Linked DNA regions of Homo sapiens: all the other regions are linked to region 1. The links come from fine-mapping of genetic effects on gene expression. A gene starts in region 1. Each other region holds a variant in brackets. All regions are shown on one strand. Distances are between the middles of the regions.

Evidence for each region. PIP is the estimated chance that this variant, and not a neighbour inherited with it, causes the effect.
Region 2: its variant is fine-mapped to the expression of CHURC1 in whole blood (INTERVAL, PIP above 0.99).
Region 3: its variant is fine-mapped to the expression of CHURC1 in whole blood (INTERVAL, PIP above 0.99).

Annotation. Positions count from the first base shown.
Region 1 is chr14:64,912,540-64,916,781 of GRCh38, reverse strand. CHURC1 (churchill domain containing 1) reads right to left here and starts at 2,327. Exons shown (of 4, transcript NM_001386928.1): 1 at 2,248-2,327. The coding sequence starts at 2,286. CHURC1-FNTB (CHURC1-FNTB readthrough) reads right to left here and starts at 2,421. Exons shown (of 14, transcript NM_001202559.1): 1 at 2,248-2,421. The coding sequence starts at 2,367. RefSeq lists enhancers at 2,058-2,327, 2,478-2,527.
Region 2 is chr14:64,936,375-64,940,616 of GRCh38, reverse strand. The region is part of intron 3 of CHURC1-FNTB (CHURC1-FNTB readthrough); the gene reads right to left. GPX2 (glutathione peroxidase 2) reads left to right here. Exons shown (of 2, transcript NM_002083.4): 2 at 779-1,459. The coding sequence ends at 1,129. Among named protein-coding and RNA genes, the nearest start is that of GPX2, 4.2 kb to the left of the region's middle. The variant C/T (reference allele first, on the strand shown) is at 1,953.
Region 3 is chr14:64,885,486-64,889,727 of GRCh38, reverse strand. LOC105370534 (a long non-coding RNA gene) reads left to right here. Exons shown (of 3, transcript XR_943942.3): 2 at 3,738-3,805. Among named protein-coding and RNA genes, the nearest start is that of SPTB, 7.7 kb to the right of the region's middle. The variant CAAACAAAA/A (reference allele first, on the strand shown) is at 1,709.

The DNA of each region.
Region 1 (4,242 bases):
AAGGCGAAACCCTGTCTCTACTAAAAATACAAAAAAATTAGCTGGGCATGGTGGTGGGCACCTGCAGTCCGAGCTACTCGGGAGGCTGAGGCAGGAGAATGGCATGAACCAGTGAGGCGGAGCTTGCAGTGAGCCGAGATCATGCCACTGCACTCCAACCTGGGCGACAGAGCAAGACTCCATCTCAAAAACAAAAACAACAACAAAAAAGAATCCAACCTAATCTCTTTAATATTCTCTACTGCAAACTCCTCCCTCATGGTCTCATAATAGCTCATGTTTATTACTGGTTTCATAAAAATCTTTTTAAACTTTAAAAAAATGAAATAGTACATAGTAAAGTACATGAAACATAAATGTAGCGAACAAGAAATGATTATAAAGTGTACATCTGTAGAACCACCACCCAAATCAAGAAATAAAACACTGCTTGCACCCGGGAAGACTTTTTCTCATGTGACCCTTCTTGATCACACCCTAATCCCTTAGGAGTAACCACTATCTCGACTTAACAGTAATTGTATACGTTCCTTACAGTTTTACCACCCAGGTACATCCTTGAATAATATATTTTGGTTTGCCTCTTTTTGAATTATACTTTATGTGTTCTTTCATCAACACTATTTGTAAGACTTTTCAGGCTGCTGTGTAATTCTAGTTTGGTTTCACGGCTATAATTCAGGGTTTCTCTACCTCCACACTATTGACATTGGGAGTGATACTTTGTTGTGGTGGCTGTCCCATGTATTGCTGGATGTTTAGCGGCATCCCTTGCATCACCCATTAGCAGTCAGTAGTACTTCCCCTTTTGACACCCAAAAAATGTCTCTGGATATTGCCAAATGTCTCCTAAGAGCCAAAAATCACTCCTGGTAGAGAACTACTGCTCTAATTCATTCACTTCCATTCCTCATTCATTAATGGTGTTCCATTCTAATGAATGTATCAGTTACTTTTCCAATCTACTACAAAAATAATGCTGTTATGAACACTTATTTATAAAAGTCTTCAGAAGCATATACACATGCATTTTTCTAGAATGGGAATCACTGGGTCATGTCTGTATTTTATAAGGCTCACCCGCTTTTTCAAAGTAGTTGTACTACAGGAGAATTCATACTGTTATACATGCTACTCAAAAGCCTAAGTATTACCCATAAGATACTAAGACATAAGGAACTACAGAGACTTTCTCCCTCCTTCCCAACCAATGCACAAATTCCATTTCTGTAATTTTCCCCCATCCTCCAGCTCCTCACCTTCTTTTCTACCCTAATTACAACTGTCCTTCAAGTCTTAGATGATGTCCACCTTTTCTCAGGGGAGAACAGCACTATCCCCTATTGCCCTCCCCTTTCCCTAAACTTGAATAGCATTTCTGAACTGAGCTACTCATTTTTTGTTAGTCACATACTCCCCAAAACTGTAAGCTGTTAGGCAGCACCAAAGGTGCCTTTTAATTTCTTCTCTGAAACAAATAATCCAGCTGGACGTGGTGGCTCATGCCAGTAATCCCAGCACTTTCGGAGGCCAAGGCGGGAGGATCACTTGATCCCAGGAATTTGAGACCAGCCTGGGCAACAGCAGCACCCTGTCTCAAAGAGAGGAGAAATAATCCCTTTCTGGCCTAGCAAAGTAATCTAACTACACATATATAAATGTTCAACAAGGATGCCTTGAATGAATGAGAATAGACAAGCTTTGCAAACTCCTGAACCTGAAAGTAACTGAGATTCAGAAGGCGGTAACAGGCAGGAAACCTAAATTCTAGTCCTGGCTCTCATCCATGCAACTAGAATGTGAACTTGGGCAAGTGATTTCCCCTCTCTGGGCATCGGTTTCTTCATCTGCAAAAGTGTTAGAACAGATGACCACAGAGGTCCCCTCCAGCGCTAGAATTCGGTAAGAAAATTGTACTTCATCAAATCGAGCTTGAGGATGAGACCGGAAGTGGGGGTGGGGGAGTCCCTCGGTTGTCGACGGGGGTTGTGGTGGTGGTGGGGTTCCTCTGTTGCTCCTTGGAGCTCAAGAGAACGGCCACTACAACTGAGGTCAGCCGCCAGGGCGGGTACCAGAGGTGCAGACCGCCACAGGCCATCCCTGGTGTGCCTAAATACCGCTACTGGGTCACCGGGACCGGCAGTGCGGCCGAGTCCGCCCCACGTACGGCCTCTCTGGGAAGGCCAGCCTTGGATATGAGACACCTCGGGGGCCGCCCGCGGGCCAAGGGAGCGCCCAGTCGCTCACCCGGTTGGGATATTCCTTCTCCACACAGTCGCCACACATCGCGACGCAGTCAACAGGGAATGTCCTCCAACGCTTCCGGGAAGACGAAACCTCGCGAGAACTGAGATACGGTTGCCGCATGCGCCCAAGTACTCGACTCCTGGGTATTCCGTCTCGGGAACCGAGCCGAAGTCTCCGCCCCTTAGCAACTGTTGTCAAGGCAGGGCACAGTCTCCTTGGCACCGTGCGTGGGCAAAGGGTGGGGCTTCAGAAACCTTTGGAGACAGACGAAGAAATCTTGTGCGCTAACAGATGTGACGGGAAGGGAAAGGGATCTTGGGCTGAGCGAAGTTCTCACAGACACCTTCCTGAGCTTAGGCTGACAAGAAAGGCAAATCACGACACACAAGAAAGGGAATTATTTCTCGCTACCGCATATACAAATCTGAAATGTTAATGAATACATTTCTGTACCATTTCTTAAGGCAATGAGAGTGAATAAGAGACCAGATCTCAGCAGGTGAATAAACAGTAACCGAAGTGTTTGGGAAGAGACACTCAGAGTGCTGCAGAAAATCTCCTAAAAAAACACTTAAAATATTAGTAATAATTGGTCATTCCAGAGTCCTCTGGAGGACATAGCAACGAGGAACGTATTTCTATCTCTCTCAGGTGTCACAGAAGCACCTCAGTGGCGGGCAAGCACTATGTAAATAGAAAAATGGCCAGGTCATCAGCCATCCCATTACTGGGTATATACCCAAAGGATTATAAATCATGCTGCTATAAAGACACATGCACATGTATGTTTATTGTGGCACTATTCAGAATACCAAAGACTTGGAACCAATGCAAATGTCCATCAATGATAGACTGGATTAAGAAAATGTGGCACATATATACCATGGAATACTATGCAGCCATAAAAAAGGATGAGTTCATGTCCTTTGTAGGGACACGGATGAAGCTGGAAACCGTCATTCTGAGCAAACTATCGCAAGGACAGAAAACCAAACACCGCATGTTCTCACTCATAGGTGGGAATTGAACAATGAGAACACTTGGACACAGGGTGGGGAACACCACACACCGGGGCCTGTCGTGGGGTGGGGGGAGGGGGGAGGGATAGCATTAGGAGATATACTTAATGTAAATGACGAGTTAATGTGTGCAGCACACCAACATGGCATATCTATACATAGGTAACAAATCTGCACGTTGTGCACATGTACCCTAGAACTTAAAGTATATTAAAAATAAATAGATTTCAAAAATTATCTAATTGAATTGACTGCAGATATTTTGATTTCAGATTTGCACATCCATTTATAAATGACCTATTGGTTCACAGATTAAAAAACCAATAAACATATGTGCTTCCAAGAAAAGAAAGAAAGAAAGAAAAATGGCCAGGTCAGTTGTTCCTGCATCATTTCCCAATCCTGTGGGTCTCAAAATGCTTGTGCTTGTTGCCCCGCCTCATCCTTTCTCTCTGTATTGAAAGCATCTTATTTATTCGCAACGACCTAATTAACTTGCAGACGAATCTCCGAAGTTTGTCTCTGTTTCTGAACAATGCGTCTTTATCACACTCCTCTACCCCAATGGGAACATCAACATCCTCCCTCAGCCCTGCTTTATTGCTGTCATGTCAGGGAAGAAAGATTGGGGAGCCTGGGAGACTCTGGGATCCAGATTCCTTAAAGAAGAGATTAATAACCATTTCAAAGCACACCAGTTTAAATGGGTTTGCTAATATGGGAATTATTTTTCCACGGAAGCACTGAAGTTGTAACCTTTAGTATTTCAACTTCTAGTAAGTATCTGCAACTGTTATTAAAAATCATAGGTGTGCTAAGAAACACTGCAAGAACTAGAGCCATCAGAGTTTACCTTATTCTTAGAATAATTATAATACCTCCCATTTGTATGACATTTTCAACCTTTCAAAAGTGTCCTCATTTCAGTTTCTAATTTTATGCTATTACAATCCTATGTGGTTGGTAAGAAAAATAT
Region 2 (4,242 bases), 24 kb before region 1:
TGGTTACTAAGTAGTTCCATTTAGAGTACACATTCATTGTTGCCTTGAACTTGCTCTGCTGTTATGGCACCTGAAAACTAGATGTTCTTGGATGGGGGTCTTCCTTCATCAAAGCTTCTTCCCATTTGTACTTCAGTTCTAGGACAAGGCAAGAAGAAAGCAAGAAGCTGTAAATCCCATTCCTCTGGGTCTCAATTTCACCCTCAGTTCAAGGAGCTGAGTAGGCAGAGGCAAAGGCTATACTCAACACACGTGCAATTGAAAGCAGGCGAGGCAAAACCAGGGCAGAGGAAAGGAAAGGGGTGTGTGTGTAGGTATGGATTTATGGGTAGGTGGGTCGGTAGGTTAGTTGAAGAGGAGGTTCTAAGCAGTATAACCTAAGCCTCTTTTCTCTTTCTTCTGCTTCAAACACCTTAAGAACTGCTCAGGGTAGACTGGAGACAAAAGCAACAGCTCAGAAGTGCTAAATCTTGAAGAGCAGCCAAAGCATGGGCAACAAAGTGAGACCCCATCTCTACAAAAAAAAAAAAAAATTAGCCGGGCATGGTGGCCTGTGTCTGTAGTCTCAGCTACTAAAGAGGCTGAAGCAGGAGGAATGCTTGAGCCCAGAAGTTCAAGGCTGCAGTGAGCAACACCTCGTCTGTCTTGTCTCTCTCTCTTTCACAGTGAAAAAGAATGACCCTGGGGAGGGAGTGTAGGAGGGTGAAAGAGTTTCATGTTGTGGATCTTTCTCTTCCCCCACCCACTGTCCACGCACTTTGTCTTTTTCCTCCCCTAGGAGAACTGTCAGAATGAGGAGATCCTGAACAGTCTCAAGTATGTCCGTCCTGGGGGTGGATACCAGCCCACCTTCACCCTTGTCCAAAAATGTGAGGTGAATGGGCAGAACGAGCATCCTGTCTTCGCCTACCTGAAGGACAAGCTCCCCTACCCTTATGATGACCCATTTTCCCTCATGACCGATCCCAAGCTCATCATTTGGAGCCCTGTGCGCCGCTCAGATGTGGCCTGGAACTTTGAGAAGTTCCTCATAGGGCCGGAGGGAGAGCCCTTCCGACGCTACAGCCGCACCTTCCCAACCATCAACATTGAGCCTGACATCAAGCGCCTCCTTAAAGTTGCCATATAGATGTGAACTGCTCAACACACAGATCTCCTACTCCATCCAGTCCTGAGGAGCCTTAGGATGCAGCATGCCTTCAGGAGACACTGCTGGACCTCAGCATTCCCTTGATATCAGTCCCCTTCACTGCAGAGCCTTGCCTTTCCCCTCTGCCTGTTTCCTTTTCCTCTCCCAACCCTCTGGTTGGTGATTCAACTTGGGCTCCAAGACTTGGGTAAGCTCTGGGCCTTCACAGAATGATGGCACCTTCCTAAACCCTCATGGGTGGTGTCTGAGAGGCGTGAAGGGCCTGGAGCCACTCTGCTAGAAGAGACCAATAAAGGGCAGGTGTGGAAACGGCCAGCCTGTGTGTGTGTTCTTTGACAGAGGGCGGAGGGAAGCTACAAACTGCAGGTGGGATAGAGGAGCTGCTAGCACACAAAGCTTTGGGAGGGGAGGATCTGACGGATCAAGGGATGCCCTAATTACTGACAGGAAAGCAAGCGCTGGCCAAGGTCTGCAGTGGCAGGTGCAGTTACGGGAAATGTGAATTATATTATTCCTTTACAGCTCTTCTTCAGAACTGGGGAAAAAGAGAAAGTGATAATGGGAGGTAGAGGAGGAAAAGACAATGAGCCCTTTGGTTGGGGATATTGGGAGGCTGTTAGGAGGATTACAGTCAGGAAGCATCAATAGCACTGTGGGTACTGGGCCAACTAGATCTGACTTGTGCCTTGGGAAATTCCTGGGCAGTCAGCTTAGTTAATGTTTACCAATAGCAAGGGCATAGAGGGTGTAGTTACTGAGAACACAAACAGCACTTTATCTTTTTCCTGATCATCAAACATCT[C/T]GGGTGTTTGATCCTTTGCTAGACTGATTCTCCCTCCTTTTTAAAGTTCATGGCCCGGGTGTGGTGGCTCACACCTATAATCCCAGCACTTTGAGAGGCCGAGACAGGCGGATCACTTGAGGTCAGGAGTTCGAGACCAGCCTGGCCAACATGATGAAACTCTGTCTGTACTAAAAATACAAAAAATTAGCCAGGTGTGGTGGCGCACGCCTGTAATCCCAGCTACTCAGGAGGCTGAGGTGAGAGACTCATTTGAACCCGGGAGGTGGAGGCTGCAGTGAGCCAAGATGGCGGCGCCACTACACTCCAGCCTGGGCGACAGAGTGAGACTCCGTCTCAAAATAAATAAATAAAGTTCACATTACACCCTCATTCTTCTCAAAATCACATATTCACAAATTCAGGCTCCAGACAAATAGAGGCAGGAATGACTGGACTCATTTCTTCCTCTGTAAGAAGGAAGGGGTTGGGGATGGGAGAGAGCCTCCCTTCAGAGTCAGGCTGTTTATAATCTGCCATTTGCAACATCATTATTCCTCACTGTGAGGACAGTTTTGCTCAGAGGCCTTGCAAGGATGGTGTCCCCAATTCCTCATCCAGTGCAGACATAATCAAAACATATCACCACCGCCAAGGTCAGGTTCTATCATGTTCTGGAAAAGATACCTGCTGAGAGGCCACTGCCTGTCACCTTGCCCCACAGACCTCATCCTGGAAACTTCTCATTTCATCTTCCCTTCTTTGACCACTAGATGGAATATTTTCACTTCTATTCACTGAAACCCTGAAGGGACAGTTTTCCAAACTGGACACACTGCTTGAGAAGCCCAATGCTGAAGGGAAAATGTTTTTCCTTTAATTGTTCTGCTTACCCTAACCATTTTCTAAGCACTTGCATCATATGAGAGTGAATGTGGAATAGATGTTTAGGATCCCCACTTTCTGACCTTCAACTAAACCTGTCAACAACAGTGCTTTATTTCAAAAGGGTAACCTGAGTATTACAGTGGGAATCCCCTGACACCTTTCTGCAGGGCCTTCTGCTAACTTAAGGCTACCCTTACCTTCACTCTTGAAACCTCAAGCCTTTCAGATTCCTGCTCTTAAAGTCAACAGCTGGGGTATGAATTATTATGGGGCAGGACCATGTACTGATTTTAGAGCAGTAACTGCAGACAAATTGCTTTCCTGACAAAATAGAGAATTCTTCTTGGATGCTAGTCATCACCTTGACAGTACCATAGCCTGTTGTTACATCCAGTAACAGAGCCAGCTATCTCGGGTGTTGGAAACATGCCACAGGCAACTTAGAGCCTGAGACACCAGTACAATGTGTTCAGTCTTTCCCTTGAGGCCCAAGTTCAAAGAATTATTTAGGGATTCCCAAAGGAATGGGAATTACAGTATAAGTTATTCTGCAGAAAGTCAAGAGAAGGCCATAAAGCTAGAATGAAGGCTCTTCACTTGGGAGGGGAAACACTATTTGCTTCAGACAGAACCTGATCTATTCAGCTCAGGAGGAAACAGGGAAGGCAAGACTGGAAGATTCTATTTTAAAAGGATGTTTAGGTTTACCAAATATTTAGTTGTGCTGTTGTTAAAATGAAGAGAAATTAGAAAGTGTTTCCTTTCCTTTATTCTTCATCTTGTTTGTCCCCCTTATCATCCTCAGAAGTATTAGCTTGTGATCATAAACAGACAAGGCAAAGCTTTAAAATATCACCCACTTTTCTAGATAAACAAAAATCTTTTAATCAGATTTCCCTAGGGGCACCCAGAAGGAGGGGGAAGTCTCCTTAACAACTCTCCCAGAAGTGCTGAGATAATGCTATTCAACTCAGAGGAGGGACAGAGAGAATCACTAACCTGAGGGCTCTTACAAAAACAAAAAACAAAACAAAAAAACCAGAGCTTGGAACAAGTGATTTTAGGAGGCCAGGGTAAAGACACTGAAATCGATAATTATCTTCATGACTATGTTCCCATAGCTATCTCTCCTTAGTTTATGAGACACTGAGGCCCAGTATGGTGGCTCAAGCCTATAATCCCAACACTTTGGGAAGTTGAGGCGGGAAGATGGCCTGAGCCCAGGAGCTCACTATGTAGCCTGGGCTACACAGTGAGACCTCGTCTCTACAAAAAATTAAAAAAAAAAAAAAAAAATCGGCTGAGCATGGTGATGTACACCTGTAATGGTTTCAGCTACTCAGGCAGCTAGGGTGGGAGAATTGCTTGCGCCTGGGAGTTCGAGGCTGCAGTGAGCTATGATTGCACCACTGCACTCCAGCCT
Region 3 (4,242 bases), 27 kb after region 1:
TGAGGGCTCTGCCCCCATAAATGCATTCATGTTATTATCTTAGGAGGGCATTCATTATCAGGAGAGTGGGTTTGATAAGAACAGCACCTTTTGCCCTCACGTTTGTTCGCTCTCTTGCCCTTCCACCTTTCCACCACGAGATGATGCAGCAAGAAGGCCTTCGCCACATGTTGGTGCCATAATCTTGGACTTCCCAGCCTCCAGAACCATGAGCCAAATAAATTCTGTTTATTATAAATTACCCAATCCATAGTATTCTGTTATAGCAGCATAAAACGAAGTAAGGATTGTTTCTTTCCATAGCCTCAGGTTGGTCTAATGGCCAGTGTGATGACTCGACAGGTCTTCCCATTGCTCATGGGGTGGACTGGTAAGGGGCTGAGCATGAGTCAGGCAACTCCATCTTCCACACTGGCGATGGGATCCCTGAATGAGCAAAACAGATCAGCTGTGCTGGTTTTGATTAGATCCCTGAATGAGCAAAACAGATCAGCTGTGCCGGTTTTGTATAAAAAGAATAGTTTTTTTTTTCTAACCTTTGGGGCACGGTTATTTCATTATCTGAGTTATTGATGAGAATATTCAGACCTTGTTTTCCTTTAGTTCACTGCTGTTTTGTTCTTGTTCTCACCATCCTCTCTATCAAAGCTTGTTCGCAGGTAAGGATCTCATATCTGCTATTTATATTTAACTATATTTTCCCCCACATTGAAAACAACTTTATTATTTATTATAAAATATTCTATGCTTATGAAATACCCAAACCTTATAGCAAAATAGAGAAGGAAGTAAGAATTACTCTAAATCTCACCATCTAGAAATCACTTAGATTTTTTGGAGTATCTTTCCTGATATGAAATGTCTTATTTCTTAATCAAATAGAAATTATTTAGAGCCTACTTAAAAAAAATCAACAGTATGCCATGACATCTTTCCCTATCAGTAAGCATAAAACCACATCACTTAAATGACTACATAGAATTTATGTGTGTGTGTGTGTGTGCATGCGTTCACACCATAATTGGTTTAACCAATCCCATTTTGATGAACATTGAAGTGATTTCCAATTTTTCATTATTATAATGAACATCTACTATGTTCTTAGCATAAGTGTAAAACATAGAAAGCTAAAGCTAAAAGAATCCTTAGAGACTAGCTAGTTCAATGCCATCATTTCGCAGAAGAGAAGCTGAGATATAGAGAGGTTAAGAGGAAGTAGAATCCAGGTATTTTGCCTTTACATCTAGTGATCTTTCTGGTTTACCCTGCTACTATCTTAAAAAAAAAATTCTTGGCTCTTAAAATGTCACTAAGTGGAACTGACTTTTTTTTCTTATGCCAATAGCCAAAAGATCCTACCTTAAAAGCTAACTCCTCCCGGGGTCATTGCATTTTAAGATTTGCTTTTAAGGCTGGACGTGGTGGCTCACACCTGTAATCCCAGCACTTTGGGAGGCCTAGGCAGGTGGATTACCTGAGGTCAGGAGTTCGAGACCAGCTTGGCCAACATGGTGAAACCCCGACTCTACTAAAAATACAACAAAATTAGCCTGGCGTGGTGGCAGGCACCTGTAATCCCAGCTACTTGGGAGGCTGAAGCAGGAGAATCACTTGAATCTGGGAGGCGGAGGTTGCAGTGAGCCAAGATCTCACCATTGCACTCCAGCCTGGATGACAAGAGCAAAACTCTGTCTCAAAAACAAACAAA[CAAACAAAA/A]GATTTGTTTTTAGTTATGAAATAAGTTAGCAGATTCCAGTACATTCTTTGGAATGAAGGCAGGATAGGGATATGCTGAGTATTTGAAATATATGGGGCTGGTGTTATATGGGGCTGTTTATGCCATAAACAGGCATAAACATATACCTGTTTATGCCTGGCAGTATTTATTTGAGGAGAAGGGTAAGGGTGGAGAAATAGAGTTAGGCAGCAGTTGGGGTCAGTGATGGAAAACAAATGCCCACTCACAGTTTGGAACTCCTCCCAAAAGAAGGGTCTACAGCTTTCCTTTGGTTCAGTTTCTGCTATGGAAGGTCAAGAGCTGGGTGCGTAAGTGCATTTTGATTACTAAGATGGAGATGGAATAGAACAAGCAGCACAGAGTTGTTACTCTACATGCTTAGCATAATGTGGGGCTAAATTCTTGACTTAATTAATGACTTAAAATATTAGGTTATAGTATGAATCATCTACATTACATATCATGGGATTTGTTAATTTAAAAATCATGAGATACTGCTCCTTGAATAAATGATGCTTTAATAAGCAGAGATTTGGATTTCTATGTGATCTTTGTAAAACTACTTAAACTCTTTCTTAATTTCTTAATATAGCAGTAAGGATAATGATAGCAATTTACTTCATGAAATTGAATAAAAATGACATAAGGCATTTGGAAGAGAGAAAATGATAAATGCACTTTTAAAAATAGAATTTTTCATACCAAAAAAATGAGGAAAATGATATTTCTGAGAAGACCCAGTTATATTCTGTATGAATTCTATAAAACATATGTTTGAATTGAATCATAGTTTCTTGTAGACCAGACCTTAAATCATTGAAGAAATATCCAAACAGAAATTGAGCAGCTGTAGAAATATCCAATAGAAAAGAAAATGAGATGAATTTGCAGAAGTAATGGAGTCTTTTATTGCAATGTCTTTCCAAACTTTATTGAAAATTTCCCAAAGGTCTTGGTTAATATTAAGAACAAATATTTGTGAATTTGGAAACTGCTCACTAACAAATAAAAGCAATTAACAAGACCATTTATGCTGGCAGTAATTATCATATAAACACAAAATTGTTTTATTGGTTAAACTGTTAGAACTCCAGCTGTCATTCCATATTAACAAATTTGATTTTTTAAAATTATATTTTCTACCCTTGATTTGAGTTTCTGGCTTGATAAATATTAATAAAGGAAGAGAACAAAGTTTTCATGGTTAGTTACTCTCAGTTGTCTACTTGCAGACTACCCACTGTCTGGAGTACTCAAGGTAGAGTGTTAATATCAAAACAACATTAACTCACTCCTTATAATGCGTTTGGATTCATCTTCCTATGTTCTTAATCCTGTGTACTCAAGGCTTTGGCATATTGGAGTATGGGAGTTGGAGCAGGGCCATTGCCCAAGGATGAGGACTGAAAATGACACTGAGAGGGTGGAGCAGACAGAGACAAAAGCTAACCGAATCATCATTATTGTGTTTGCTATCCCTTGTTATAAAGACGTTGGAAGATGGCAGACCCCTGCCTCCATAGATGAGCTCAGTGGTAACTGTGAGCATAAAACCTACTCGATTCACTCCATTTCTCACCCATTGACAATAAGTTAGGTATGGATGCATCAGGGTAGCTGAGGACCTGGTGAAATTCAGGCACAAATATTGCCAGCTATGTTTCAGGGAATGTGAATTCATTTAAATAACCTTATTCGAACATAGATAGGAAAGTTAATCTCCTGAAAAAAATCACAAATATGCATTTTTAAGCCAAATAGAAATGACTTTTTGAATTACCTGTTCTTTGGTTGATCTCCAAGATTGCAACCTCCTTTAATTTCCATAATGTGTTCATTCATTTATTTACTCATTTGCTCATTAGGCCTTTATTAAGTATATCTTTTGTGTCAGATACTATGCTAAGTGCCAGGAATCTTAAAACTATATCCTGAAAGCAATGGGGAGCCACTGGCTGATTTAAAGAAGCAGAGTGACAAGACCAACCTTCCTTTTTAGAAAGTGTACTTTGGCTACTATGTGGAAGCAGAATTGAAGGAGAGGGAAACTGGAGAACGGATGAACAGGTAAGAGGCTCCAGAAGCAATTCATTGTGAGAAAAGATGAGGCTGTGTGATGGACTTAATTGTATCCCCCTAAATTCACATGTTGAAGTCTTAGATCTCAATGCCTCAGAAAGTGACTGTATTTGGAGATAAGGCTTTACAGAGGTAGTGAAAGTAAAACTGAGGTCATATGGATGGGCCCTAACCAAATATAACTCATGTCCATAAAAAAAAAAAAGAGAGTAGGACATAGGTGCACACAAAGTGGAGACTATGTGAAGACAGAGGGAAAAGATAGCCCTCTACAAGCCAAGGAGAGAGGCTTCAGAAGAAATCAACCCTGCCGAAACCTTGATCTTGGACTTCTAGACCCTAGTACTGTAAGAAAATTAATTTTTGTGTTTGAGTCACCCAGCATATGGTACTTTGTCATGGGAGCCCTAGCAAATTAATACAGC